4 linked regions of the Homo sapiens genome follow. The protein of the gene in region 1 interacts with the protein of each later gene in a biochemical or structural test. Each region holds a gene or a part of one and is shown in the gene's direction. Other genes may lie near its edges.

What was found.
Region 2: of the proteins of LAT (region 1) and ZAP70, one has a biochemical effect on the other in vitro, tested with the Homo sapiens proteins (2 studies listed by BioGRID).
Region 3: the proteins of LAT (region 1) and PLCG1 form a complex in vitro, tested with the Homo sapiens proteins (2 studies listed by BioGRID and IntAct, with this or other methods).
Region 4: the proteins of LAT (region 1) and GRAP2 form a complex in vitro, tested with the Homo sapiens proteins (one study listed by BioGRID).

The regions. Positions count from the first base shown.
Region 1 is NC_000016.10:28,980,065-28,988,055, forward strand, and holds the start of LAT (linker for activation of T-cells family member 1), read left to right. Parts: upstream 1-4,987; 5' UTR 4,988-5,311; coding exon of another isoform or gene 5,312-5,353; coding exon 5,354-5,453; intron 5,454-5,648; coding exon 5,649-5,676; intron 5,677-5,789; coding exon 5,790-5,824; intron 5,825-6,070; coding exon 6,071-6,152; intron 6,153-6,317; coding exon 6,318-6,382; intron 6,383-6,475; coding exon 6,476-6,505; coding exon of another isoform or gene 6,506-6,592; coding exon 6,593-6,650; intron 6,651-6,734; coding exon 6,735-6,829; intron 6,830-7,991. Other genes in the region: SPNS1 (protein spinster homolog 1), read left to right, coding at 1,406-1,551, 1,837-1,992, 2,292-2,481, 2,793-2,858, 3,128-3,226, 4,141-4,375, 4,545-4,615. UniProt on the Homo sapiens protein: Required for TCR (T-cell antigen receptor)- and pre-TCR-mediated signaling, both in mature T-cells and during their development.
Region 2 is NC_000002.12:97,730,558-97,737,575, forward strand, and holds part of ZAP70 (tyrosine-protein kinase ZAP-70), read left to right. Parts: intron 1-2,325; coding exon 2,326-2,464; intron 2,465-2,567; coding exon 2,568-2,655; intron 2,656-2,739; coding exon 2,740-2,786; exon of another isoform or gene 2,787-2,986; coding exon 2,987-3,038; exon of another isoform or gene 3,039-3,962; coding exon 3,963-4,155; intron 4,156-4,692; coding exon 4,693-4,899; intron 4,900-6,915; coding exon 6,916-7,018. UniProt on the Homo sapiens protein: Tyrosine kinase that plays an essential role in regulation of the adaptive immune response. Regulates motility, adhesion and cytokine expression of mature T-cells, as well as thymocyte development.
Region 3 is NC_000020.11:41,133,293-41,140,550, forward strand, and holds the start of PLCG1 (1-phosphatidylinositol 4,5-bisphosphate phosphodiesterase gamma-1), read left to right. Parts: upstream 1-4,250; 5' UTR 4,251-4,349; coding exon 4,350-4,566; exon of another isoform or gene 4,567-4,708; intron 4,709-7,258. Other genes in the region: translation initiation factor IF-2-like, read right to left, coding at 3,466-4,047. UniProt on the Homo sapiens protein: Mediates the production of the second messenger molecules diacylglycerol (DAG) and inositol 1,4,5-trisphosphate (IP3). Plays an important role in the regulation of intracellular signaling cascades.
Region 4 is NC_000022.11:39,967,072-39,974,089, forward strand, and holds the end of GRAP2 (GRB2-related adapter protein 2), read left to right. Parts: intron 1-970; coding exon 971-1,201; intron 1,202-2,339; coding exon 2,340-2,462; intron 2,463-3,833; coding exon 3,834-4,013; 3' UTR 4,014-6,650; downstream 6,651-7,018. UniProt on the Homo sapiens protein: Interacts with SLP-76 to regulate NF-AT activation. Binds to tyrosine-phosphorylated shc.

The DNA.
Region 1 (7,991 bases):
CCTATAATCCCAGCACTTTGGGAGGCTGAGGTGGGCGGATCACCTGAGGTCAGGAGTTCTAGGCCAGCTTGACCAACATGGTGAAACCCTGTCTCTACTAAAAATACATAATTAGCCAGGCATGGTGACGCATGCCTGTAATCTCAGCTACTCGGGAGGCTGAGGCAGGAGAATCGCTTGAACCCGGGAGGCAGAGGTTGCAGTGAGCAGAGATCGTGCCATTGCACACACAAAATTTTTTTTTTTTGTAGAGATGGGGTCTTTGTATGTTGCCCAGGTTGGTTTTGAACTCCTGGCCTCAAGCAATCCTCTTGCCTTGGCCTCCTAAAGTGCTGGGCTTACGGGTGTGAGCCATGCGCCTGGCTCCAAATACCCCTTTTTTGGGGCAGCTCTCATTCTGCTGAGCCTGCAGGAGACTGGCTGCCCTCACCTGGAAGCCATGTGCTAGACAGAATTCTTGCGTGCAGGTGACAGAAGCCCATTGTAAAACTGTAAGCCCCCTAGAGGCCGGGTGCGGTGGCTCACACCTGTAATTCCAGCACTTTGGGAGGCCAAGGTGGGTGGATCACAAGGTCAGGAGATTGAGACCACCCTGGCTAACACAGTGAAATCCCGTCTCTACTAAAAATACAAAAAAAAATTAGCTGGGCGTGGTGGCAGGTGCCTGTAGTCCCAGCTACTCAGGAGGCCGAGGCAGGAGAATGGCGTGAACCCAGTAGGCGGAGGTTGCAGTGAGCCGAGATCGCACCACTGCACTCCAGCCTGGGTGACAGAGTGAGACTCTGTCTCGAAAACAAACAAACAAACAAACAAACAAACCGTAAGCCCCCTAAAGGGGCTGTCTTGGCTTTCTTCCTGAAAGTCCCAGGTGAGCTTCAGTCAGGTAAAGCTGGATCCAGGGCTCCCACACTGCCCTTCTCTTCTGAGCTTTACTTTCCTTTGTGTTAACATCATTCTTAAGGACGTGAGAACTCCAGATGATTACCTTTCCATTTAGCAACATTGGCACCTTGGACCCTGGGGCCGTGTTTCCAGGATAGCGTCTGACTAGATGAACATGCATCACGTGCCCTCTGCGGAATCCGTCACCGAGGCTGGGGTGGTTAACAGTCCTCTTGTTGGCCAAGCCTGGGATCCTATTTAAACCAAGTGGATTGAGAGAAGTAGGGGTACTGGTTTCCCAAAAGAAAATTACCAAAGAGGAGACAAAGCTAGGCTTGCAAAAATAGGGTGGCCCCTAGTGGCAGCCCCCTTCCCCCAGATTGCAGGTTCGGCTTCTTGGAGCAGGCACTTAACTGGGTATTTTAGGTCTCAGGCTGGAGTTATCTGTACCCCACACTCTCCTCCAGCCCAGGGCTTGAGTGTGTCTCTCCCTGTGCCTATCCTGAAGCCCTCTGTCTCCCAGGTGACACCGGGTCTAGGAGTGGTGGCCGTTCTGCTGCTGTTCCTGGTAGTGCGGGAGCCGCCAAGGGGAGCCGTGGAGCGCCACTCAGATTTGCCACCCCTGAACCCCACCTCGTGGTGGGCAGATCTGAGGGCTCTGGCAAGAAAGTGAGTTTATTCCCACCCTAGACCACCATCTGAGGCCCCCTGGCGTCTGGTTTGAGGTTTAAGTGGGGATGTTCCTGTTCCTGGCCACACCCCAAGGCCAGTAATTCGGTCGATACTGTCCCCTTGTGGCAGCTGCTTGAATTACAGGCCCAGATCCTGGGAGCCAGAACCACCTCTGCACGGTGTTGTGACCTTACTAAAATAAGCCAGGAAGGGAGAAGAGAGGTCCCCTCCTGCCTCGACACCTCCGTGGGGTCTTACTCTCTCCCTCCCAACTATCTGCAGTCCTAGTTTCGTCCTGTCTTCCCTGGGCTTCACTGCTGTGGCCTTTGTCACGGGCTCCCTGGCTCTGTGGGCTCCGGCATTCCTGCTGCGTTCCCGCGTGGTCCTTGGGGAGACCCCACCCTGCCTTCCCGGAGACTCCTGCTCTTCCTCTGACAGGTGCCCAGATGGGGCTATGCTGGGGGGCCTGCGGGTGGCAGGGCTGGAGTGAAGAGCATCTGTGGCTCAGACCCAGGCAGGGAGTTTGACTCCTGACTTCACAAGCTGCCTGCTCTCCTGGAATCTCCGTTTCCTGGTCTGGGAAATAAGTGATGGGATGATGTCTGCCACTCAGGGCTGTGCCAACCATGGGGTGCTGTGTCTGTAGGGACCTTGGTTGTGAGGGTGGCTAGGATGGACAGCGTAGGGGCCTTGGCAGGCACAGGGACAAACCCCCCATTCCCTTCCCTCACCCCTAGTCTCATCTTTGGACTCATCACCTGCCTGACCGGAGTCCTGGGTGTGGGCCTGGGTGTGGAGATCAGCCGCCGGCTCCGCCACTCCAACCCCCGGGCTGATCCCCTGGTCTGTGCCACTGGCCTCCTGGGCTCTGCACCCTTCCTCTTCCTGTCCCTTGCCTGCGCCCGTGGTAGCATCGTGGCCACTTATGTGAGTAGCCAGCAGGTGTCAAGGGGGATGGCGTGGGTCCAGGGTGGAGGAGCAGTCAGCGTAATGGCCACTCGAGGTGGAATGCCTGGTTTTGAATCACAGCTCTGGCTCTTCCCAGCTGTGTGACATTGGACAAGTGACTTAACCTCTCTGTGCTCAGTTTCATCATGTGTAAAATGGGGATATTAGTAGCACCTGTCTCACTGGGGTGTGATGAGGATTAAATTAGTTAATAGATGAGCTGGGAACATGGTCAACTTTCCATGTGTTAGCCCTTACTGTCATGAACCCCCGACCCTCTCTTCCCCCAGATTTTCATCTTCATTGGAGAGACCCTCCTGTCCATGAACTGGGCCATCGTGGCCGACATTCTGCTGGTGAGTTGCTGGGCAGCTCCAGGGTCAGCGCAGAGGCTGATGAGAGCAGAGTTGGGGTCAGGAGTGTTGCCTCTACCCCTCAAAGCCCAGCCTCAACCTACCTTCTGCAATAAATAACATCTGTAGCAGACCCCCGGCCTGCCCTGCGACCTCAACCCCAGGCACACCTCTGACCCCGGCCTAGGCGGATCCTTGGTGGTCTCCTGGCCCCCTGCCTCCTGCCCCCTGGAGCCCAGAGCATCCACTGAGCTCCACCAACTCCTCCACAGTACGTGGTGATCCCTACCCGACGCTCCACCGCCGAGGCCTTCCAGATCGTGCTGTCCCACCTGCTGGGTGATGCTGGGAGCCCCTACCTCATTGGCCTGGTGAGCATTATTTCTTGGCTGGCATGGGGTGGCTGGTGTCCTGAGCCTGGGCTGGATCAGAAGGCCTGGCCCTAGTGAAGTGTCTGTGTCCTGCGTGCTGGGCACTTCTCACCTTCCATTGTCAACTGGAGGAGAAAGATTTTGTCTTTGAATATTTCTACCAGTAAGGCCAGGGACCTCACCCTGGTGGTCCAAACTCCTCCTTTCTTTTCTCTTTTCTTTTCTTCCTGAGACAAGACCTCACTCTGTTGCCCAGGCTGCAGTGTAGTGGCACGATCATGGCTCACTGCAGCCTCGACCTCCTGGGCTCAAGCGATCCTCCCACCTCAGCCTCCTGAGTAGCTGGGATGATAGGCATGAGCCACTGCATCTAGCTCAAACCTCCTTCCCTTTCCTGGGCTCCACTTGTCTTTCTCCCTGGAGCTCAGGGGCGTGCCCTCCCTGGTTCATCCATGAGGCTGACTCCCCTGGCTTTCCTGTCTCCTCTCCCTGCAGATCTCTGACCGCCTGCGCCGGAACTGGCCCCCCTCCTTCTTGTCCGAGTTCCGGGCTCTGCAGTTCTCGCTCATGCTCTGCGCGTTTGTTGGGGCACTGGGCGGCGCAGCCTTCCTGGGCACCGCCATCTTCATTGAGGCCGACCGCCGGCGGGCACAGCTGCACGTGCAGGGTCAGTTAGGAGCTGTGCCCGGCCCAGCTTCTTGATCTGCCTGTCTGTCTGTCCATCTGTCTGCCCACTCCTGTGCACCTGGCAGCTCAGTCCACAGCCCTCCCCTTGTTTGGCCTCCAGTCTGTCTGCATCCACCCCTGGGGTGGCTCTGTGGCTGCCCCATCCATTTCCCGCTGCCTGTTTGCCCTTCTCTGGCTTTGTCTGTCTGTCCATCCAGCTCACCCTGGCTCTGACCCTCCCCCCTCAGGCCTGCTGCACGAAGCAGGGTCCACAGACGACCGGATTGTGGTGCCCCAGCGGGGCCGCTCCACCCGCGTGCCCGTGGCCAGTGTGCTCATCTGAGAGGCTGCCGCTCACCTACCTGCACATCTGCCACAGCTGGCCCTGGGCCCACCCCACGAAGGGCCTGGGCCTAACCCCTTGGCCTGGCCCAGCTTCCAGAGGGACCCTGGGCCGTGTGCCAGCTCCCAGACACTACCTGGGTAGCTCAGGGGAGGAGGTGGGGGTCCAGGAGGGGGATCCCTCTCCACAGGGGCAGCCCCAAGGGCTCGGTGCTATTTGTAACGGAATAAAATTTGTAGCCAGACCCCAGGTGCCTGCTCTCGTCTTTCTCTGGGTGGCCTCTGATCTTGCACCCCGTCTTCACCCCAGGGCTCCTGAAGACTGTGGGTCATTCCTCAGGGCTCTGGGTGAGTCTCTGCCCTTCTGGGCTGGGCGACTGAGATGGGGGACTGCTCTTCTCCGAGTGAGCTGGCTGAGTGTGACCGTGAGTCACGCCCCTGCTTCCCTGGAGCCTGTCCCTTGCCTCACAGGCCTGGCTGAGGTGGGGGTGGGCACTGCCCTTTGTACCCCAGAATTCCCACTGTCAGGGCCTCCCTGCTCGCTGCCTCCCCGGGTCCTGGATATGGAGGCCACGGCTGCCAGCTGGCAGGTGGCTGTCCCCGTCTTGGGGGGGGCCAGCAGACCCTTGGTGAGTGCCTGGGGTGGCTCCCGGGCCTCCTCCTGCCCCCTCCCCACTGGCGGGTGGGGTGGGAAGGGGGCGGGTGCAGCCGGCTGAGAGCTTGATGATTTCCTGCCCTCGCCCGGCGCTCACCACAGCTTCCTGCCGCAGGCGGGCGGGAGGGCGGGCACGGAGAGGCGGGCGCCGAGGAGGGGCAGGTAGGGCTGGGACGCAGGGGTAACTGGATCCCCCGACTTCAGCCCAGGCCCTGGTCTGACCACCCTGGGAGCAGGGACTTTCCACAGTCAGCTGGACGCACACTCAGCCCAGTAAAAGAGGGGACCCATCCCGGGAGCCCCGGGGAGGGCACAGCTGCCTCCTCCCGGGCTCCCCTGCCACCTGGTGCCTACCTGCCCCCTGCTCCCTGCCGGGTCCGGTCCTCACCCCATCTTCATCTGGCCTTGACTCTGCCCTTGAGGGGCCTAGGGGTGCAGCCAGCCTGCTCCGAGCTCCCCTGCAGATGGAGGAGGCCATCCTGGTCCCCTGCGTGCTGGGGCTCCTGCTGCTGCCCATCCTGGCCATGTTGATGGCACTGTGTGTGCACTGCCACAGACTGCCAGGTGAGTGGGAAACTGGTGGGGGTACCCAGGGCCCAGGGACACCGACGGGATCCTCATCCACTCCCAGCCCCTGTGTCTGTCCTGGCTCTGTCCCTGCCTCCGTCCTGATCCCAGCGCCTCTGAGAGTCCCTGGATCCCAGCACCTTCTGCCCTAAGCACCCCCTGTTCCTGCCTCACCAGCCCTCTCTTTCCCAGGCTCCTACGACAGCACATCCTCAGATAGGTGAGTCCGCCCCAGCCGCCCTGGGTCTCCCTCCACACCCCATGGCGGGGCAGGGCTGGGGCTTCCATCCTCCATCTTCCAGCCCCATCCCCAAGCTGTGTCTCCTTTACCAGTTTGTATCCAAGGGGCATCCAGTTCAAACGGCCTCGTGAGTACAAGGAGGGTCCCCTACCTTGGGTGCCAGGGAGAGGGTCCCCTGGTGTGGGAGTGAGCGTGAACCTTCAGACTTCCCCTGCCACCTTGGGGCTGCCCACATGGCCTTGACCTGAGCTGGGAGAGGGGAGATGGCTCCCCCAGGCCTGTCCAGGGTGTGGGGCTTTCAGGGGCTTAGTCTGTTCTTTGAGGCCTTGACGATGTCCGGAGTCCTTCTTTCAACTTGGTTCTGTGTCCTCAGACACGGTTGCCCCCTGGCCACCTGCCTACCCACCTGTCACCTCCTACCCACCCCTGAGCCAGCCAGACCTGCTCCCCATCCCGTGAGTAGCTGCTCAGCCCCTGCCCCTCCAAAGCTCAGCCCCTCCCCCTCCAAACTCCACTCTCTACCCCTTCACTTTTTTGGATTGGGGGCCCCTTTCCCTTTTGCAACTGCTGTTGCCCCCTGAGCCCCACCTCAGGCATGACCCCTGACCTTTGACTCCCAGAAGATCCCCGCAGCCCCTTGGGGGCTCCCACCGGACGCCATCTTCCCGGCGGGATTCTGATGGTGGTAAGTGTGGGGAAGGGTTCAGGCGGCGGGGGCTGGGAAGAAGATAGGCCTGGCCTGAGCTGACTTAGTCTCCCTCTCACCCTCTCTTTGAAGCCAACAGTGTGGCGAGCTACGAGAACGAGGGTGCGTCTGGGATCCGAGGTGCCCAGGCTGGGTGGGGAGTCTGGGGTCCGTCCTGGACTAGGCTGACCCCTGTGTCGTTACCCCCAGAACCAGCCTGTGAGGATGCGGATGAGGATGAGGACGACTATCACAACCCAGGCTACCTGTGAGTGGCCAGGTGGGAGGTGGGAGGTGAGGGCTGAGGCTGTGCGTCCCCCCTTGCTCACCGGCCCTTTTCACTTCCTTTCAGGGTGGTGCTTCCTGACAGCACCCCGGCCACTAGCACTGCTGCCCCATCAGCTCCTGCACTCAGCACCCCTGGCATCCGAGACAGTGCCTTCTCCAGTGAGTCAGGCATTTGTTTTTATTTTTAAATTTTTTTAGGGATAGGCTGGAGTGCAGTGGTGCCATTGTAGCTCGCTGCAGCCTTGAACTCCTGGGCTCCAGTGATCCTCCCAAGTAGGCTACTCGGCCTCAGCCTCCCAAGTAGCTGAGACCACAGGCGCATGCCACCACACCTAGCTTATTTAAAAAATTTTTTTTGTAGAGATGGTCTCACTATGTTGCCCAGGCTGGCCTTAAACTCCTGGGCTCAAGTGATCCTCCCACCTCGGGCTCCCAAAGTGCTTGGGATTATAGGCGTGAGCCACCATGCCCGGCCCTGTTCTTCTGATTTTCTCAGCTTTCTCTCTCTTCTTTCCTATCTCTGTGTCCTTTCCTTTATCATCTGGGAGATTTCCTTGTCTGTATTCTTCAACCCTTCCACTGCAATTTTATTTCTCCTATCCAGAAGCTCTTTCTCGTTCTCTGGCTGTTCTTTTTTTATAGCCTCCTGTTCTTGTTTCATGGATGAAACATCTCTAAGGATGTTAATTAGAGGCTGTCTTGTGTGTCTGTGTGTGTCAGTTTTCTTCTGCTTCCTGCACTGCCCTGTTTCCTTTGAGCTGGTTTTCTCCCTTCCTCATGGTCTCATCCTGCCTGGTCACATCCTCTGGGCTTTCCTCAATGTCCGGGATTCTTTAGTTTTCTGTTGCTTTGCTCTCTCTGTATATACTTGTCCTGGGCTATCACTTCTATACCCTGGCTTTGTTTGCCATCCAGATTCCCAGTTTGCTCTCTCCTGAGCTCCAGACTGTATCCAAGTACTTCTTTTCTTTCATTCATTCATTCATTCATTCATTCAGCATTTACTATGTGCCTCTGCTGGGCTAATGCTGTGGATATAACAGTTAAGGAGGCAGACTGTCCTGATAAAATAGCTGGCTGGGCATGGTGGCTCACTCCTGTAATCCTAGCACTTTGGGAGGCCGAGGCGGGAGGATTGCTTGAGCCCAGGAGTTCAAGACCAGCCTGAGCAACATGGCGAAACCTCATCTTTAAAAAAAAAAAAAAAATTAGCCAAGCGTGGTGGCACATGCCTGTAGTCCCAGCTGCTCAGGAGGCTGAAATGGGCGGATCATCTGAACCCCGCAGGCGGAAGTTGCAGTGAGACGAGATCATGCCACTG
Region 2 (7,018 bases), on another chromosome or scaffold:
CCATTTTTCAAGCCTCTGCTTGTGTCATGTTTGCTAATGTCCTGTTAGCAAGGCACATGGTCAAGCCCTGATTCAGAAGACAGAGGAGGAGGCCCCACCTATTGATGGGAAGAGCTCCCTAATATTGTGGCTGTTTTCCCCCAGTATTCCACATGGAAGTTTAAATAAACAAATAAGGAGGAAATTATTAGTTCTAGAAGAAAGAATGAAAGAGACAGACAGACTTGGTGGCTCACGCCTGTAATCCCAGCACTTTGGGAGGCCGAGGCAGGTGGATCACGAGGTCAGAAGATTGAGACCATCCTATCTAACACAGTGAAACCCCATCTCTACTAAAAATACAAAAAATTAGCTGGGCGTGGTGGTGTGCACCTGCAGTCCCAGCTACTTGGGAGGCTGAGGCAGGAGAATGGCATGGACCCAGGAGGCAGAGCTTGCAGTGAGCCGAGATCACGCCACTGCACTCCAGCCCGGGCTGTGGAGCGAGACTCGGTCTCAAAAAAAAAAAAAAAAAAAAAGAGACAGAGGAGGGGAGATGGGAGGTTTGCTGTTTGCTGGTGAGTGGCTTGGCATGGAGTCTCTGTTGTCAGTTTAAAACTTCAGGTTGTGACCCTTAGGAGGTGTTTTCACTTCTCACAGTCCCTGGAGACCATCACCTCCAGGCCAGCCTGCCACCTGCCTCTGACTTCCACAGCTCTGAGACCCCCAGGGCCAATAGCCCTCCCTCCTCACTGGAAAGCTGCACTTAACAGGAGCTTGTGCCAGTGACTCAAAATAGAAATGTTTTGTGGGAGATGTTGACTGGTGTCACTGCGGGGTTTCACGTGACGGCGCTGCATCTGCTGTCCCAGCCTACTGTCTCTGTGGGATGTTTGTTTCCTAATTTGTGGTGGGTTCTCTTCCTTGCCCTTTTGTGTGCCCTCATTGCCCCCGCCCTGATTTCCCATCTCTCCATGTTATCTCCAGACTGTTGTGGGCTAGCCTGGGAACTGCCCCACCCTTCACTGCACTGTACTTCGGGGAACGTGCTGTCCAGGAATGGAGAGGATGGTCACAGCTGCACCTCTCTCCCTCACTCAGGGGACATTTCCTAAGGAAGGGCCTTATTGCAAGGTGGGCCCATGGCTGCCTTGCTCACTGCCATATCCCTGCGCTGAGAACAGTGCCTGGCCTGTCAGTAAAGACTTGTCCAGTGAATGAACATCCACAGGCAGGGCCAGGCCTGGTCTGAGAATTTGCACCTTGGAGGGTGCAGCTCGCAGGCCATCACAAGGGCTCTTCTGTAGTGCAGTGCAATCCCTGAGATCAGGAGTCGGCTGCTTCCGGCCTCCACAGCTTCCACGGGGCCAGCTGCCCTCCCTCCTCACTGTAAAGCTACACTTGACCCTGCAATAGAGGCTTGTGCCAGTGACCCCAGACAAAACTGTTGTGTGGGGGATGCTGACTGGTGTCACTGTGGGGCTTCATGCGAGGGTGCCGGTGTCTGACACTAAGTTGGTCTGTGTTGAGGGGGGATGTGTGTACTCAGGGCTGGAGCGGATGGGGGGACAGTTTCTTACCCCACAAATGCACCACCTTTGAGGGGCTCAATTCCCATCATAGACATGGAAGATTTATATATTTATATTGACAAAATTCCAGCAGAAGGCAATCGAGGGTCTCATTCTAGGAAAGGTCCATCTATTATGGAACTGGTCAGTCTCGTGATGAGAAAGTGACTTGTTTTGATTTGCACAGGGGTGCCCTGTAAGCTTGTCATGGAGCTGCGCCTACCTGTGTGGGTCTGTGTGGAAAAGGCTTTCTCTCCCCAGGAGAATGGTGCTAGGTCTACCTGTTGAAGGCTCTGGGTCTGTTGTAGAAGGCCAAGTGCCCCCCATGGTTGGCTGACTGTATGGCCGAGTGTACCCCCAATGAGTGCCTGTGGATGACTATCTCTCTGTGGATGGCAAGTGTCTGGCCGTGGATGGCCAACTGTTCAGCCATGGGGGACCAGGTGTTCCCCAGTGGATGGGTGTCCCCTCCTCCGTGGCTGGGTGTCCACCGTGGGGGGTCAGGTATTCCCCGTGAATGGCCATCTGTTGGCTCTTGGAGAACAGTGCATTTTCCTGGGAACACAGCCATGGCCCCTCCACCGCCCTCTGCCACTTGGCCCATCATCAGCAGATCTGGAGGTGATGGGGGCCTGGCCTGGCTTCCCCAGTCCCTGCAGCTTCTCTGCAAGGCTCTGAGGTGTGGAGCCCATAGGGTGTGTTGCGGGGGAACCGGGGCACAGCAGGAGGCCCCCAGGTGGCTCTAGGGGTTACATCCCCTCCCTTCCCCTGCCAGGCTGAGGCCGCGGAAGGAGCAGGGCACATACGCCCTGTCCCTCATCTATGGGAAGACGGTGTACCACTACCTCATCAGCCAAGACAAGGCGGGCAAGTACTGCATTCCCGAGGGCACCAAGTTTGACACGCTCTGGCAGGTAGGCTGCCCGTGCAACTTGTTCTGGGAGATGCCGTGCTCAGATGGGGTGCCGGGCTCTGGGGAGGAGAGGAGCCTCTCTGCTAGCTGCCTGCTCCCTGCAGCTGGTGGAGTATCTGAAGCTGAAGGCGGACGGGCTCATCTACTGCCTGAAGGAGGCCTGCCCCAACAGCAGTGCCAGCAACGCCTCAGGTGACGGCAGCAGGCGGGCGGGCGGTGGGCGGGGGCGGCAGGAGACCTGGCCCCCAGCCCTCACTGTCCCTTCTGCTCCCCCAGGGGCTGCTGCTCCCACACTCCCAGCCCACCCATCCACGTTGACTCATGTGAGTTGGGGGCACCTGGAGTGTGGCCTTGGGGATGGAGCTGGGGAGTGGCTGTGGGGGAGGCTGGGATGGAGGCTGGGGTGCCTGTGGAGCGGAAGAAGCTCTCTCTCCACTGTCTCTGGGAGTCCTCAGTGGATATAGGTCTCATGAGAGGGGCTGGACGTCCCCAGCTCAGGCCTTGCTGACCCTGTGGCCTTTAGCCTCAGAGACGAATCGACACCCTCAACTCAGATGGATACACCCCTGAGCCAGGTGAGCGGGCAGAGGTGGGGACGCGGGTTGGGGCTCATGCTGAGCCGAGATCAGGGTCGCTGTCAGGGCTGTGGGGTTTCACGGGGGGCGCTGTGGGCCGGGCCAGGCTGTGGCAGTTGGCTTGGTTAACACCTGTGCACACATGTGCCCACACCCATCACACCTGCCTGTGCACATGTACGTCCCAGTGTGTACTGACGTGCAGGGAGCACACTTGGCCTTGCCTGAGGCTCCCCAGACACACGTTTGTTGAGTACCTACTATGTGTCAGTCACGTTCCGAGGTCACTGTGTGTATGAGCCACCGAACCCTCCTGACATGCCTTATGAAGTGGCTATGGTGATTAACCTCACTTTACAGATGAGAGAGGGAGGGGTCTGTCTATGGGGATGTGAGGCAGTGGTAGAGGCGGGATGTGAACCCACGATGGGCCCCAGAGCTCACATTCCTAAAATGGTCTGCTGCGGGTGCTCCTGTTTCTCATGGGTGGGCCCAGACCTGAACATGTGTATGCACAGAGAAGACACATAGTTACATGTGCACCTAGAGGCTCGCTTTTGGAGGCCTCGTAAATGTGGCTGTGTGCTGCATACGCAGACAGGGACGGGCCCGGCCATAGGCGTACACGTACGAATGCACACACATGCACACCCCAGCTGGCACAGTAACGGTGCCACGTGGATACCAATGCACACGCCCCTAGAGTCCACCCTCATGTGGCTTCATGGGGCACCCACAGCTGTGGCCAGGAGTGTATGCCAGTGTGTGCGTGTGGATGTGCAGGAACACGCATGGGCACCCACCTGCTTGTGCATGCTCCAGGGACGGCACCCTTGTCTGGGGCAGGTGCTTGTGGGGGCTGAGGCTGCCTTGCTCCCCACACCCCTGCCCCTGACCTGGGAGTGTACCGCTGTGTGTGCCCAGCACGCATAACGTCCCCAGACAAACCGCGGCCGATGCCCATGGACACGAGCGTGTATGAGAGCCCCTACAGCGACCCAGAGGAGCTCAAGGACAAGAAGCTCTTCCTGAAGCGCGATAACCTCCTCATAGCTGACATTGAACTTGGCTGCGGCAACTTTGGCTCAGTGCGCCAGGGCGTGTACCGCATGCGCAAGTATGGCCGCCCCTGCCGTGGTGGGAGCACCGCCGCCTGGGGCAGAGGGGAGTGGCTTCACCGGGCTGTGGGACGGGAGCCGGGATGTCTGTCTCACAGCAGTTTGCCTGGGAAACAGACTCTGGGGCAGGACGTTGCACGCTGGAGGATTCCCTGAGAGAGCTCGGGACACCTGACGGGGGTGGGATGGGGCCTGGGCAGGGGGAGGCTGTGGAGCTGAAGTTCCCAACCCAGGGGAGCTGCAGTGGGGTCCCCGATCCCTGAGTCCACTGGCCCCTGACAGGCTGCCCCTGGGGAGGGTGTCACTTTGGATTCTTTTTGGCGATGGGCTGTTCCCGGTGAGCGATCCGGCTGTGAGCCGTCCTCAGCAGACGCTCCAGGCTGCAGGGACATTGAGCGCCTTGGTCCCAGCCTGGGTGGCGACTACAGTTGTCTACCACACAACTCAAGGGAGAAGAGAGATGGGTGGGTGGGGGTGTGGGGCCGAGCAGGGCCGGTGCCCCTCGCCCACGTGCCTCCCGTGGCCGGGTCGGGCAGGAAGCAGATCGACGTGGCCATCAAGGTGCTGAAGCAGGGCACGGAGAAGGCAGACACGGAAGAGATGATGCGCGAGGCGCAGATCATGCACCAGCTGGACAACCCCTACATCGTGCGGCTCATTGGCGTCTGCCAGGCCGAGGCCCTCATGCTGGTCATGGAGATGGCTGGGGGCGGGCCGCTGCACAAGTTCCTGGTCGGCAAGAGGTGAGCACCGGGTGGGCCCGGCCATCGGGTGGGTGGGGCCGGGGCCCATCCTGGGCATGGTGGACATGCACCCGCGTGCATGCGTGTGTGGGAAGCCGGGGCACTTCCACACCATCGTGGACACACTCTCAGCCTGCACACCCACACCCATACCCATGCCTGCAAAGCAGAGCTAACCCTCAGTCCACCATTGCACCAGTGCGGTAATAACAGTGTCTACCTCCAGGGCCTTTGCGAGGATCGAATGAGTCGGCACCTATAAAGGGCACTGCTAGGGCCGGGTGCGGTGGCTCATGCCTGTAATTCCAGCACTTTGGGAGGCCAAGGCGGGTGGATCATGAGGTCAAGAGATCCAGACCATCCTGGCCAACATGGTGAAACCCCGTCCTTACTAAAAATACAAAAGATTAGCTGGGCGTGGTGGTGGGCGCCTCCCAGCTACTCAGGAGGCTGAGGCAGGAGAATCGCTTGAACCCACGAGGCGGAGCTTGCAGTGAGCCGAGATTGTGCCACTGCACTCCAGCCTGGGGACAGAGCGAAACTCCATCTCAAAAAAATAAATAAATAAAAATAAATAAAGGGCACTGCTAGTAAGAGCTTTGTACACATCAGCTGCTCCCCAGACTCCCTGGGCCAAATTCATGGCCCCTGGGAAAGTGCCCATTGCCAGTTATCTGGAACCTGCCCTTTGTTTACGTGCTGCGTGGTTTTCTATTTTTAATTTTTTTTTTTTTAAAGAAACAAAAACGAAGATGTGACAGAGATCACTTGTGGCCTGTAAAGGCTAAAATCCTTACTATCCGGCCCTTTACTGAAAAGTTTTGCAGTTTCATTTGTGGTTCCTCATCCCCAAACTCTTACCCTCACAGACACAAGTTCTGCACTCCCCAAGGCACGTTTTTGCTGATCTGTGCCCTCTGGCTGGTGCACACACCTTCCCAGTGTGCCCCTGGCTCCCACATTCAGTCATTTGACAGGTGTTTATTGGACAGTTTCTCAGTGACAGGAACTGTTAGTAGCACTTGGGATTCATTAGCGAATAAACAAGGCAGAGATCCATGCTCTGTATTCTGGTTGGAGAAGAGAGACAGTAAGTAACAATCCTGATGAAATCTAGAGCATGTGGGAAGATAGTGTGGTGGGCACAAGCCTGCCGCAGCTCCAGGGGGTTGGGAGTGTTGGGGTGCGAGGTGCAGTGAGCAGGGAGGTTTGAACAAACTGAGGGAGGCCGCCATGCCCAGACGTGGGGAAGGGCATTCCAGGCAAAGGGCACCGCCTGTGCAGAGGCCCTGAGGTGGTCCCGTGCCTCGTGTGGTGCGGGCAGGGAGGGGATGAGCAGACCGTGCCAGGCCTTGCGGGCTGCCAGGAGGACTTGGAGTTTTACCCTGAGTTGGGTGGGAGCTAGGGGGTGCTGTGAGCAGAGGAGGGGGAGGACCTGACTCAGGGGCAGAGAGGACAAGACAGTGGGAGACAGGAGGGAGCGAGGGCCTGGGCGGAGCTGACTATTCCTGCCTGGGGGTCCAGGTGAGTGATGCTGCGGCTGCTTCCCGGTGGCAGAGGCAGAGATGAGGAGTGCGGTGGATTCTGGAGAGATTCTGACACCAGAACTGCCAGGGTTTGCTGATGGATTGGGTGTGAGAGAAAGAGGAGCTGCTGGAGAGGACAGTGGAGGAGCCATATGTGTGTGCACATGGGGATGGGGACAATCAGGCCACATTATCTTTGAGATGCCTGTGAGACCTCAGCACGTCGAGGGTGCAGGCATAGGTCTAGACTTGGGAGTCGTAGCGTGTGGGTGATCCCTAAAGCCTTGAGACTGGATGAAGGCAGGAGTTTTGCCTGTTTTGTTCACTGCTGTGTCCCCAGCCCCACGCCTGGCACACAGCAGGTGCTCAATAAGCGTTTTTGAACACATGGTCACCTGGCTCATGCCCAGCTGGGTCAGAGAAGCATGCTTTGCCCCTGGGAACTTGGCTAGTCTTCTCCCAGCTGACCCCGCCTTCCCCGCCACCCCAGGGAGGAGATCCCTGTGAGCAATGTGGCCGAGCTGCTGCACCAGGTGTCCATGGGGATGAAGTACCTGGAGGAGAAGAACTTTGTGCACCGTGACCTGGCGGCC
Region 3 (7,258 bases), on another chromosome or scaffold:
GCTAGGCTCTTCCCAGGACATTACAACTCCTTTCCAGGCTAGTGCCAGACAACAGAGATCCTGGGAGTTGGCTGAGACTGTCATCAGGCCTGCATCTCAGTTTAGTTTTCCCTGTGCCCACTCCTGTTTCTTTCCAGTACCTCCCAGAGTGTTGATCCCAGGGCCACTCCCCAATAAACATACTGCACACTAACCTGTCACAGAGTCCACATCCAAAGAACCCAACCTGTGACAGCACCAAATCAAAAGAGACTCAGGAGGCTGAGGCAGGACTGCTTGAACTCGGGAGGCGGAGATTGCAGTGAGCCAAGATTGTGCCATTGCACGCCAGCCTGGGCGACGAGAGAGAAACTCTGTCTCAAAAAAAAAAAAAAAAAAAGAGAGAAAACATATCAGGTAGGGGTATTTTACAAAGGAGAGAGGATATACAATAAAGTGTTCATACATACATGGGAAGCAAAACAGCACTGACTCTGGGGCCAGACTACCTGGGTTTGAATCCTGCCTTTTAGCTCTGTGCCTCAGTTTTTTCATCTGGAAAATGGGGATAATAAGAGCACTTATAGGGCTGTAATGAGGAAGAAATGAGACAATGTGGATAAAGCAGTTCCATAGTGTTTACTATATGTCAACCACTGTTCTAAGTGGTCATTTAATAAACAGCTGTGAGGCCAAACCCACAGGTCCCGAGGGGCAGTTGGGCTGGGACTCTCCCCAGACTCTGGGCATGGGCACAGGTACAGTGTAGGCCAGGGCATGCTGAAGCATGCATGTTCACAGAAATAGGCCTGAGCAGGGCTAGCATGGGTGACGTCACAGGCGTGTGCTTGTGTGGGTGCTGGGCTGCTCCTCCCAGACAGCGCAGCTGCACGTATTGCCATTCACACCCACGCACCCATATATATGCTGAGCTGGGGGAAGCCCACACAGACCACACCCTCTGCATGCCCTGTTTTTCCTGCACCTCCTTTGGTGGAAGGAGGCACCTGAGGCCTGGGATGCTGGCCCAGAAGTCCCAGGAGGAAATGGGTCCTGTTCCCTGATTACAGGCCTGGCAACGGGCTGAAAACTCAAGCTCTTGTTGGCAGGGATTTCTTGAGCCCCTAGAGGTCCAGACCCAGAGGCAAAAGTAAAAGCAAGGAAGCCTTACCCTGCATGTTAGGAAGCTCCCAAAAAAATGGAGAAACGGATGTAAAAAGTGCATCAGAGCCCACAGGCTGCCGGAGTCAGCACAGTAAGCTCAATGAGGGCTGCAGCACTTAAGAGGGTGCCTCCTGTACAAAACAGGATCAGACAGCCAGAGAGGGGCCCCATTCAGCCCCCGTCTGCCTTCCTGGTCTCATCACTCCCTGTCCCCTCCTCAGTCAGGAAACTCTAGCTTTGTAACCCTAAATTCAACAACCTCTTCCTGGCCTCAGGGCCTTTGTACATGCTGTTACCTCTACTTGGAATGTACTTTTCTCCAACCCACCTTTAATAATTCACCTCGCCATCGACTCACTTCCTTTAGACCTCTGCTGAGGTCTGAAGAGATCTCGACCCAATGTTTTTCCTTCTAGCCCTCATCATAATTGTCTTTATGTAACAGAGTGTTTATTTAATGTCTGAACTCCCAGAGAGCTGGCGCTGTGTCTCTCTTGTGCTCCTCATGTTGTCAATGCCCAACACAGAGAAGAGCAGGGTCCACAGAACTTCAAGCCTAAGCCAGTTCAAGCCACACTCTGTGAGCACTCACGTTCTGCTGGATTCCCTGTGCCCAAGGCCAGCGGTGAGCATGCCTCCCCTCACCCATGCTGATTAACCAGATAGCCTCCATGCCCACTGACTACTGACCACCAGGACTTACCTAAGCCAGTGGATCTCCTGTGAGGCAGAAAACTCATGGAGTCAGGCCGACTTGGGTTCTAGTTCCCACCTAGTCATGTTATGTGGCTTTGGGGCAAATTGTAGAACTTCTCTGAATCTCTGTTTCCTCATCAGTAAATTGTGGACCATCATTCCTGATTAGAAGATAATTATGAGGATCAGGTGTGACCACAGGTGCACACCTTCAGCACAGGGTCTACGCTAGCTCCGTCCCGCCCACGTAAAGACCTGCCACTAGGTGGCAGTCCATCTCAGCTACCCCACCGCTCCTTACTCCACAGAGGCTGGCTAGGACAAAGGGTCTCAATGTCATGCTGAATTCTGAGCTTCTTAGGGGACGCACTTGAGGAAATCAACGTTAACACACAAGTTTCCACTACAGCAAGACAAAGTCAGAAGCAGCAGCCCCAGGTCACTATCCAGCTGAGTGGGTTGCCTGAGCACACGCTCTTACAAACTCTAGTCTAGTCCTACTATCTCACAATTCCCAGGAAGCCTGGCTCTTTCTCTGGCATCAGCTGGAAGCTCTGTTGGGCTTCTCACCTCTGAAATGCAGTAAGTTGTCCTGCTGTGCCTGGCAGCCGACCCACTGCCTGGCTCAACATGTCAGACAGGCTCCACCGCGACCGTGGGTGTCCTCAATTTTGGCGGTGCTGACAAGGGTAGATAGATTGCAGGGGTGAGTTTCAAGAATGGCTTCAGAAAGACAAAGAGTATGAATTATATTCCATAACCAGAAAAAGGCCTTGTGGCTGGAGAATGGAGAGTGAAGGATCACTTGTGAGAGATGAAACTGGTGAGATGGGCAGGTCATATAGAACCTGCTAGGCCAAGCAGGGAGTGTGGATTTTAGGTGCAATGGGAATTCACGGAGGGTTTTAGCCTGGATGTAGGGGATCATGATTTAATTTCATTTTAAAGATTTAAAGCATGATAAATCCAGGCAAAACCAAACTGATAGATCCAGGCAAAACCAAACAAGGTGAGTAGTCTGGGTGACAGGAGATGGGGCCTTCAGCTTGTGGGCTGAGTGACAAGGTCTTGATGGATTGGAGGTGAGGCAAAGGGAGGAATCAAAGTTAGCTGCAAGGTTTTTGACCTTCCAACTTAGAGAAGTTTAGCGCCGCGTTCTGAGAAAGTGAAGACTGTGGAAGGAATCGTTTGGGGAGGGAAGGCGAGCTGTCTAAGGGGGGGGGATGTGGAACATGCAGTGGGATGCTGGGGCCTGGAACGTAGGGGAGATGCAGGTTTGGAGTCACCGGTGCCTGTGTTGTTGGGCAAAGCCAGGGGAAAGGTCAGGTCGCCTTGGGATCTGGCCTAGCACTGAGTGCAGAGGAAGAGAAGCTTCTGAGATCGAGAGGCAGCGGCTACAGGAGGAGGAAGAAAGCAAGGCGGGGAAAACCAAAGTTCAGGAGAGCATTTGCAGGAGGGCGCTGCGGGGTAGGGTCTGAGTCGGAGCCCCGAATCGGACTCGAGTCCTGTCGCGTGGGGACGGAGCGTGCAGAGGCCCATGCGAGGGACAGACACAAAGGCCCTGGGAGCTGCAGGTCAGACCACTGGACAGCGCGGCCGCGGACCTAACGCCCCTGTAAGGGGTGCTCACGCTTGGGGGGAACTCTCCGAAAGAGAGGACCACTGAAAGCCACCCTGGCAGCAGGGGCGGAACAGACAGACGTGGGTCTGGCCGTCGCCAGAACTGCCTGCGGACCAGCCCCGCGCTGCCGGGGGGGCGGGACATGTCGGCTGTCCATCAGTGCCCGCGACCAATCCGCAGGCAGCCCCGCCCCCGCCCCTCCCGGGAGAGGGCGCGCGGAGGACCCGCCGCCGCCGGTGTGAGGCGGCCCGTCCTGGCTCCCTTGTCCGGGAAGCCCGCCCAGGTAACTGAGTTTGGCCGGGCATTCCCGGAGGACGCGCCATCCCCTCACGTCCCGTCCCGGTCGCTGCATGGGCGGTGTTCGGGACGCGGGGGCTGCGTCTGTGCGGGACCGCGGGGTAGCGGCCGCCCGTGCGAGTACGCCTGACTGACGCGCCGGCCGCCGGGCCTGCGGCCTGTGGGCGGGGCTGCCGTGCGTGACAGGGCCGCTCGTGGCCGCCGGGCTGTGTCCGGGGCCGCGTGAGAAAGCTCTGCGGGACTGAGGGCTGGGTGGGTCGACCGGGAACGGCGCGCGCTCCCGCCGCCATCGCGCCTCCGTCCCCGCCTGCGGCCTGTCTGGGGGTCGCGGGGCGCAGGCGCGGCGGGCCGACGGGCGGGGGTCCTCCCCACGGGTGCGCGGGCGCCTTTGTTCCCGGCGCCGAAGCGGGGTGGGGCCTCAGGGCAGCCCCGCCCCGCCGCGCTGAGGCCCCGCCCCGTGTCCGCCTGCAGGAGCCGCCGCCGGGTCCCGCTCGTCTGCCGCCTCAGCCTCAGCCCCAACCTCAGCCGCCGCCGTTGCGCTTGCTCCCGGGCGGTCCTGGCCTGTGCCGCCGCCGCCCCCAGCGTCGGAGCCATGGCGGGCGCCGCGTCCCCTTGCGCCAACGGCTGCGGGCCCGGCGCGCCCTCGGACGCCGAGGTGCTGCACCTCTGCCGCAGCCTCGAGGTGGGCACCGTCATGACTTTGTTCTACTCCAAGAAGTCGCAGCGACCCGAGCGGAAGACCTTCCAGGTCAAGCTGGAGACGCGCCAGATCACGTGGAGCCGGGGCGCCGACAAGATCGAGGGGGCCAGTAAGTGCGCCCACTTCCTGCCTGGGCCCGCCCCGCGCGGGGGTCGTGGGAGCCCGGCCCGACTGCTTGCACCCCGGCCGGCCGCCCCAGCGACTTGGGCAAACTTTCGGGCCCTCCCAGACTCCCTCCGGGCCCCGCCCCCGCTTCGTCTCGGGTGGTCACTGGGGGCGGGGGGCATCCGGGTCCTCGGTCACCTGACAGGACACCCCCCCTCCCCCAGCTGGGGGGAGTGTTCCAGGCGCTTTGCCCTGAGGCCTAAAAATCCTCGCGGGCTGGAGACCTGCGGTGCAGGCATCGGGCCCCCCAGACCCTGGGAGTGGTGGCGGCGTCGGCGAGGGGAGCTAAGGCAGTGGCCCCCACCCTGCACGGGAACCTGGGGCCTGACCAGACGGTCCCCGCCCACTCTTTATCCAGAAAGAGCAGTCTGTGAAACTCTCCGGGCCCCCAGGCTGGGCTCTTATTTGCAAAGGAATCTTTGGGTTCCCTAAGTAGAACTTAGGCAGATGTTGGGTAGGGCTGGTCTTGGAGCAGAGCTGGGCCTACTCATCTCCCTCTGGGGGAGAGGGAGGAAGGTGGTCTTGTTTGGTTTGGAGAAGCCTGAGAGAAGCCAGTGGCTGGAATTTTTTTTTTTTTTTTTCTGCTACTTTTGTCCCAAAGCTGGGTTTTGGAGGCCTATGTGGGTGGGCAGACACTCAATGCCAGGGCAGGGACTCCCCTTGCCCTGGGAAGCACGTTCCCAGGAGATGGGCCCCATAAAGGCCTGCCCCAGCGCCTTGGAGTCAGGTATTCTTCTCAGGAGTGCAGCTAGTTTGTGAGTCTAGCCCTTTGTCCTCTGTCCGGTGGCTTCAGGGAGCGGGAGCGGCTTCTCTTAGTTTCCTGCCTTTTCGCCTTCCCAGGCCTGAGCTTGGCTGCTTTTGCGCTGGTCTCTAGTGGGAGGAGGGAGTTGGGGGATTTTGAAAAACCCCAGATCTTTGAGAGTTGTTCCACTTAGCGCGTGCCTGTGCTGTGGTCGGATGGGCACTCTGCTCTGCCCTCCATTCCCCCGCCTCTCAGTGTGAAGAGATGGTGTGTCTGCAACTCTAGACTGGGTTGCTTCTTGCAGGGACCCCCGGAGACTAGGGTTAGAGAGACCCAGGCTCAGAACCAGGTCTGTGTGAAGGAGGGAGATCAGGAAGTGACACCCCAAGGGGGGGTCCCACAAACCTTCTTGGGTATGGTGTGCATGTGTGTAGATAGTTGAGGAGATTGGGAGGAAGGAAGGTCTTGTGGTGAGGCAGCCAACCATCCTCAGCTACAAACTCCAGATCTGACACAGATCTAATGCAGCTGCTCAACTTAGAAATGGCAGCCCCCTTCCTCAGTGCCCCCACTGACCCTGTCAGCCATTGGGAGAACATTTTAGTGACTTGAGAGCCTGTGGATTCCAAAGTAAAGGAAGAATCGACACTGCAAAGAGCTGAGATAACCCTGGGAACATCACTCAGGCATCAGGCTCCAGGCATGGTCCCCTTCCTTACTCCCTATGCTGTGTTGAGTTGGTGGCACTGGCTGGAAGTTCTCAGAGATCTCCTGGGTAACAGACTGCATTTTAAACCACGCATATTAGCAGGCAATAAATGTAGCACAGTGGTTGATGGCAAGTCTGGATTTGAAGCCCATATATTCATTGTGTGTTTCCCGGCCAGTTACTTACCTTCTCTGAGCCTTGATTTCCTCATGTGTAAAATGGGGGTAATAATATATCCAGTATATATGGTTGCTCCAGGATCAAATGAGACAATTCATATAAAACATCTAGCATTGTCTGACACATAAATGTTTAATAAATATGAGCTGTTATTAGCAATAACATTAACAATAGACCGTGGCTGCCCTTCAAGACCCTGAACTGGGAATGGTGAGGGGGTGAGGTGTGGCTATAGGTGAGGATGAAGGTGCAGGAAGGGAGGAGGACGGTGACCAAATTCACATTTCACTTAGATTGCTACTCAGAAAAAGGCAGGAAACAGTTTTGTTTTGCCCCAACCCATGTGCCCACTCACCCACCCACCATGTAGAACAGTGTTTCTGTAGAGAAAGTGTTTGCAGTTGTGCACATTTGACTCCTGGGTGTGACCTTTCTTGTTTGTAAGTTGGGGCCTGAACAGAAAAGAGGGGTGCAGAGAGGGGATGATTTATCATGCCTCATGTATTTGGGGGATGGAGGCAGGCATACAGAGGACCTGATAACCCCCTACCCAGGGGTGAGCAGGTGGGTCAGCCAGAGGTGTACAAATTCAGTGATCTCATCAGTTAGCTGGGATTTAACAGGCCTGGAGAGTAGGCAGAGGATGTAGGAGGACCCTGGCTTTTGGATTTTGGGGGCTCAGATTGAAAAGAGCCTGGATGAAAAGTCTGGTCGATGCTTGTGTGTTCAGACTTAACTAATGGAGGCTTCCACTGAAGCCGTGCCCTGCTTCTACCCATTCGTGGGCTCTCCTTGTTGGTGGGTTCTGATCCCTGCGGCCTCTGAGGAGGTTGGACTGCCAGCCGGGTTTTCTGCCACCTGGACTCTTGCCCAAGCACCTCAGGTATCTGGCCTTTCCTGCTGACCCTACCAGGGTACCAGCAGTGCCTGAAGCCTGGCCTAAGAGAGAGACACTGTGCTACCTTCAGGGTGTTGGTAGACCTGAGGGAGAGACAGTGTGGTTTA
Region 4 (7,018 bases), on another chromosome or scaffold:
AGGAAGAAGCATTCACTAGAATAGCTGAAATCCTAGGGACAGGTTATTTGAAAAGATATTGAGACTGTGAAAGCAATGTGTGCTTTGGGGAAGTCAAGAAAATCCTCCTTTTTCGAGTCCCTAGTTGCTTTTAAGCCTGAGAAGTTACTGCCAAAGGAGAAAAGAAGTTACCACCAAATGCACACAGAAGTTCAGAAAGGAAAACAAAGGCTAGCCAAGACCTTGTGAATCACTCTAACCAGGAAACGGACAGAGGTATTAACTCACTAGGATGGGCATTCAGAGAAGCAATATAAAATTGCATTAAATGGGATTAAATGAGTTGATATTTGTAAAGCGCTTAGAACAGTGCCTGGTATATGCTGCCCTCAGGGTCCTACATAATTGTTTGTTAAATGAAACTAACAATACGGTATTTCTGATTTGTAAGGTTGTTGTAACATTAGGGAAAAAGGCCTTACTTCTTCCCCCACGTCCAGCCCGGCGGCAGGCCTGGTTCCCATGGTGTTGCAAGAATGTTGCTGTTTGGGTCTCTATCACCAGGCTGTAAATGACAGTTCAAAATCATGCAAAGTCAACAGTGGAGCTTATCTGGAGGGTAGATTGTCCAGTGGTGTGGCAACATGTGATAAGAAGGGGTGGCATTGTATCAGTAAAATGGAATATTTCAGCTTGATTACACAGAGAAAAAACGAGCGCCCTGGAAATGGACTAAATGGCTACCAGGCAAAAAGTGTTAGTCTGTGAACCAGAGACCTGCACTCCTAAAACTGGGAGGATCTGAGAATGCAGAGGCCACTTTGGAAAATGTGAAGGTCTAAAGCATCAATTATCTTTTAGCTGCCCCCACCCCACCAGCTATTTCTTGGAGCCAGATGAGCAGGGTCTGGGAACAACTGCCCGAGGGTAGGGTAGGGCCAGACGATCAGAGAGGAGGATGCATCTGCAGCATCTCTGTTCTTTCTCCCAGGGTCACCGGGGCAACAGCCTGGACCGGAGGTCCCAGGGAGGCCCACACCTCAGTGGGGCTGTGGGAGAAGAAATCCGACCTTCGATGAACCGGAAGCTGTCGGATCACCCCCCGACCCTTCCCCTGCAGCAGCACCAGCACCAGCCACAGCCTCCGCAATATGCCCCAGCGCCCCAGCAGCTGCAGCAGCCCCCACAGCAGCGATATCTGCAGCACCACCATTTCCACCAGGTATCTGGAAAGAAGGCAGTGGGCACAGTACGGTGGAAAGGAGAACCTGCCTCCCCTCCAGGCCTGGCCCAGCCTCTTGAGTTCTCAGAGAGTTCATGATGAAGACCCTGGACCCCCCCAAATGGCAGAAATAGGGAAACTGTTCTTGGCAAAGACATCTCTATGAATTAAATGGCTCCCACCTGAACACACACACACACACACACACTGTCTCACACACACACACACACTTAAACTCACACACACACACACTTCCCCTGAGGACCCAGTAAACAATTGCTTCATTTTCCTATCAGCACAATTCCAAATCTATTCATGCCCCTTAGCCCATCTGGCTGTCAGATCCACAAGAGAAAAAGGCTTAATACCCACAACAGAGCCTTGTTTATTACTTATTTATCTCCCTCCACCCTTGTTCCCGATGGGATTTCAGGCGGCTTACTGAGATGGACAATACGGCCAGATAACATCATTCCTGAATTCCTTAGCAGGGCACACAAAGTCCTTTGTGAGCTGCCAGAATCTATTTCCCCAGCCTCGTCCCTGCTGCCTCCCTGCCAACTCCCCGTGCAAACACACATTCCAGCAACCCCCCACGCTGCCTTAGTTACCCGAATGGTCCATTGCGTTTCCTCTCATGCCTTTGTGGCGTTTTATATGCTGATCTCTCTGCCTGATGAGCCCCTCCCTGGGCAGTCCTACCCCTCTAAGCTGGAGTTCAAGCATGACCTCCTCTGTGAAGCCTTCCTTGATTTCCCGGGCAGATACAGACATTTCTTCTCTCTGCTCACTTACCACTTAAATGTGCATGGTTCCCCCTCTAAATGGAAGCTCCATGAAGCCAGAGACCTTCTCTTTCCAGCTATATTTCCCTTGTGTCTGCTACTGGAAACATGGTAGGTGCCTGATAAATATTTCTTGACTGAATAAATAAAACCTGCCTTTGCCTTCTTTGCCTTCAGAATCTAAGGTGCCTTTAGACCTTAGGTCCTCCTCAACGTGGAGGGTTTATTGTCATTATCAGTAAGTATTCCTGGAATATACCGGCTCTGTGGATGGCATCTGAGCAAGGCACTGGGGGAACCGGTGGGAGATGTCCTGGCAGTGGGGTGACCAGTCTTCTGTTGTATGTTTCTAGGAACGCCGAGGAGGCAGCCTTGACATAAATGATGGGCATTGTGGCACCGGCTTGGGCAGTGAAATGAATGCGGCCCTCATGCATCGGAGACACACAGACCCAGTGCAGCTCCAGGCGGCAGGGGTATGGGAACTGTCCTTCTCTGGGATCCCTGGGGAAAGGCCTTGGGACAGAGGTCAATGGAGGAGATGAGGCAGGAGAGACTCAAACCACACAGATCTGGCTGGGCACGGTGGCTCACACCTGTAATCCCAACACTTTGGGAGGCCAAGGCAGGTGGATCACCTGAGGTCAGGAGTTCGAGACCAGCCTGGCCAACATGGTGAAACCTCACGTCTACTAAAAATACAAAAATTAGCCAGGCATGGTGGCAGATGCCAGTAATCCCAGCTACTTGGGAGGCTGAGGCAGGAGAATTGCTTGAACCCAGGAGGCAGAGGTTGCAGTGAGCCGAGATTGCGCCATTTTACTCCATCCTGGGCAACAAGAGCGAAACTCCGTCTCAAAAAACAAAACAAAACAAAACAAAAATGCACACACAGATCAACGAGAGGTGATGGAATGTTTGGGGAGGCCTGGGGCTGAGCCAGCACCGTCCAGTCTGTTGATCTCAGTCTGGTGCCAGGCCTTCCCTGTTCTCATAGTTCTCAGTTCTAGTTCTTTATCATCTTTATCATAGTCCTTTACCATTGCCTTTATCATTGCATCTTTTTTTTGTTTTTTGAGACAGGGTCTCACTCTGTCTCCCAGGCTCAAGTGCAGTGGCACAATCATGGCTCACTGCAGATTCAAACTCCTAGGCTCAAGCGATCCTCCTGCCTCTGCTTCCCAAGTAGCTAGGTATATTATTTGTAGCGATAAGCTCTTGCTATATTGCCCAGGCTGGTCTGGAACTCCTGGGCTCAAGCAATCCTCCTACCTCAGCCTCCCACAGTGCTGGGATTACAGGCATGAGCCACCGTGCCTGGCCTGTGATCCATCTTGACTTGTGACTTGATTGCCCTAACACCAAGGGCTGTTGTTTGGGGCATGTTGCCCTTCTGTTTGTCACTCAAGATAAAAATACCACCTATTGATGTGGAGAGAGTGGTTCTCAGGGAGTCTATTGGGGCTTTGGACAATAACATCTGTTGGTAAAAGTCCTGGGTCTCCAGAGTGACGCTGGTGCGTTCTGGGAACTTCTTGCTCAGGCCTGTGCATAGGTATCTGATTTAAATTGCAGCAGGGTAGCCGGGCATGGTGGCTCACACCTGTAGTTCCAGCTACTTGGGAGGCCAAGGCAGGAGGACTTCTTGAGGCCAAGGGTTCAAAACCAGCCTGAGCAACATAGCAAGACCCCATCTCTACAAAAAAAGTTTTTTTAAGCTGCAGAGGGGTCAGCCTTCAGGGAATGTTGCTCTCAAAGACTTGGATGTGGTGGGAGGAGCCAGCAGACCCTCCCCTGCCTGCCCAGCCCACAGCTCAGCAGAGCCTCTTCTGTGCTTCCCCCAACAGCGAGTGCGGTGGGCCCGGGCGCTGTATGACTTTGAGGCCCTGGAGGATGACGAGCTGGGGTTCCACAGCGGGGAGGTGGTGGAGGTCCTGGATAGCTCCAACCCATCCTGGTGGACCGGCCGCCTGCACAACAAGCTGGGCCTCTTCCCTGCCAACTACGTGGCACCCATGACCCGATAAACTCTTCAGGGGACAGAAGCTTTTTGTCTGGAGCTGCCCACAAGAAAGAGGGCAAGGAAAAAAGGCTGGACTCCATGACTATATATACATACATCTATCTACATCTGCCTGTGTACACACACAACTTTTTATACTAGTAATTTATTGGCAATTGGGCTGGTAATTAGTTGATGCAAAAGGGAACTCAGGTGGAGAATAATATTGACACTTGCTTTTCTGCCCCCCTCAGGGGTGTGTGGAAGGCAGTGGGGGAGTTGGGAGGGGGGCAGGGAAATGAAATGGAGTTTTGTCCTGGCCTTCAGCTGTCACTGCTTCCTCCTTGTCTTGGGAATTTTCACGGAGAACAGCTAAGCAGAGACCACACCTCGGCACTGGACACAGAACAACAGGGTGGGGTTGAACTTGGTGGGGCACGTTCTAGCTGACCTGCAAGCCCCGCTCACCTGGAGGGCTTGCAGAGCAGCTCTCCTCCTGTTCTCCAAGGGGTGGGCACTGTTGCATTAGGAATTAAGGTGCAGCCCAGTGCTGCGGGCAGCCAAGCGAGTCTGAGCGGGGATGTGAAGGCAGGACGGGGTTGGAGAGACCCTGCCTGTGCAAGGCTGGCCTCCTAGTCAACACCTAGCTGAGACATTCATCTCTGTTCAAATTAATATTCCTTGGGTCTTTCAAATGAATGTTTCAATGTGAGGAGCGAAGTACTGGGAAATCGAGGGATTTTCCACAATCCCCAAGCAGCTTACTCAGTGGAACCTCTGTTTCCCCAGCTATGAAGGAAATAGCATCCTACATTCCGTAAAGTGCTTGAAGAAGCTCTAGCTGAGAATGCTGAATTTTACAGTCATTGTTTTATGGTTACAAGGGTATGTCTTCAGGGCTCTGTTCATTTTCCCTCTTGATTTTCTCTTTTGAAGATGCCTTGCCCAGTGGCATGGAAAGAAGCCCACTTGATGATAGGAGCCTGACTATGAATTGATTGACTAAACATGACCCCAGGTGGAAGCTGGCTTTGACACCAGCTTCCTGTTCAGTCTGACCACTGCTGTCCTCCTGCTGCCCAAGAGTTGCACCTGGAGCAAGGAACCCCACCATGGCTGTCGCTCTCCATCCCATCACGCTAGAATCATGTGTCCAAGGGCTCACTCTGGAGGTGCACAGCACAGGTCAGCCTGGCCAGGGGCGAAGGAGACAGTAGAGAGGAAGCTCAGGGCCTTAGGGGAGGCCGGGTGCAAACCCGTTCTGCACCAAGTGCACTCGGAGTTTGTGGGTATGGGTGTGTACCCCTGCAGGTGTGCACATGTGTGCTTGCACGCACATATTTGTGCACTCCTGTGTGTATACATGTGTGCTTGTGTATGCATATGTGTGCATTCCTGCATGTGTGGACATGTGCGTGCATGCATCTGTGTGTCTGTGTGTGTGCTGAGACAGGAAAGGGGGTGAAAGTGTTGGTGAGGGAGCCTGGAAGTTTTCTCTTCCCCAACCTCTCTTGCTCTAAGGAGGGATGGGGTTGGGGGCAGCCGTTATTGAAGGTGATCGGAGAAGAAAGATTTTCTGACTCAGAAGTGACTGCCAGTGTAGCACAAGCAGTGTCCCTTGTGACTGTGATTCTACAGTTCTCTGATCCTCATGTTTCCTTTAGAGGAAAGAGGAAAAAAGGAACTCTGTGGTGGGTATTGGGAGGGAAAAGAAAATAGCCTGGTGGAGGCAGGAGGGAGTCGAGTGTGAGTAAGGAGCACCTGCAGCTTTTGGAAGTGAAAGCAGAGAGAGGGAAAGGTAGCTAAGACATCCAGGAGGATCAAGGGGCAGCGTGAGAGGCACAGGGGGAGGAAAGGGAGAGGGTGAGTGGGGCCAGGGAAGAGAACGGTGTGGAGTTGGTGGGCAGATGGTGCAGGAGGAGGGCTGGGCAGTGGGGAGAGGAAGAATCAGAGCAGAGAAACCGCTGCTGCGGAAGGCAGGGAGCAAAGAAGCATAAGGAAAAGAACAGGAGAAAGAACAAAGGCAGAGAAGACCTCCTCAGCTATTTTGGTGCTAGGTAATGTGAAATGCTGCAGTAAATAAAAGCCATAAGTAATGTTTGATTTTACAGTATTTACAAACCATATGCTTTAAACAGCCCACAAACTCCATCCAGTTGTCTGATGATGTGGGAGGACCAGCTCTAGTTAGACGGAGGTATGTGATTCGATTCTGGTGGAGACTTTGTGCCTTGAAAGGCTTCTCAGGAAAGCAGTAATAAAACAAAGTGTCCTTGTTTGGCCAGGCCGTGTCTGGTGTCTGCGTTGCATACCCCTCAGGTAGAGAGTGAGAACGAGACCAGGGGGTGACAGGGGTCATCGGCCTGCAGGAGCTGACCCCGTAGGCAGGCGGTATGAGCAGAGCTTTCAGAACCCCTGGAGCTCGGTGTTCTGTTGTAGCAAAAGCTACTGAAGAGTATTTTGTACTGAGATGCCAAAGCATCTTTCCCTTGCTCATCAGCCTCCATTCAGAAGGAAGCGGGAAAGTCACCCAAACCACCTACAAGGAATGAGGGCTCTTAGCGGCCAGGTAAAGAGGACAAGAACCAAACTGTCCACATTATGGAGGGGAGGGGGAAAGAGAGCTCAACCCCCCTCAGCCTCTGGTGCTGCCAGGGGGAGCCCCTCCGCATGTGTCCCCACGGGCCCTAGTTTCTACCTGACAGCATTTCAGCACCAGAGGAGGGTTGAGCCAGCTCCTCTCACCAGCCACAGAACCAGCAGCCAACAAACACATTGTCCCCGAGTTTGGCTGCAACACTCTATGTGACTTGGGAACTTGAAGCTTCCAGAGAAAAGCCAGGTCCTGTTGGACCAGTTGTTGGGTTTTCCTAACCACTTGCTGTGCCTCACCGCATTTCAAATATCTGGCACCTGCCACTGCCCACCCACTTTTAGATGGCCCTAGGGTGATCTAACCATGGTGCTTCTCAAAATTTAAAGTGCCTACGAATTGCCTGGGGACCGTGTTGAAATGCAGCTTCCAACTTG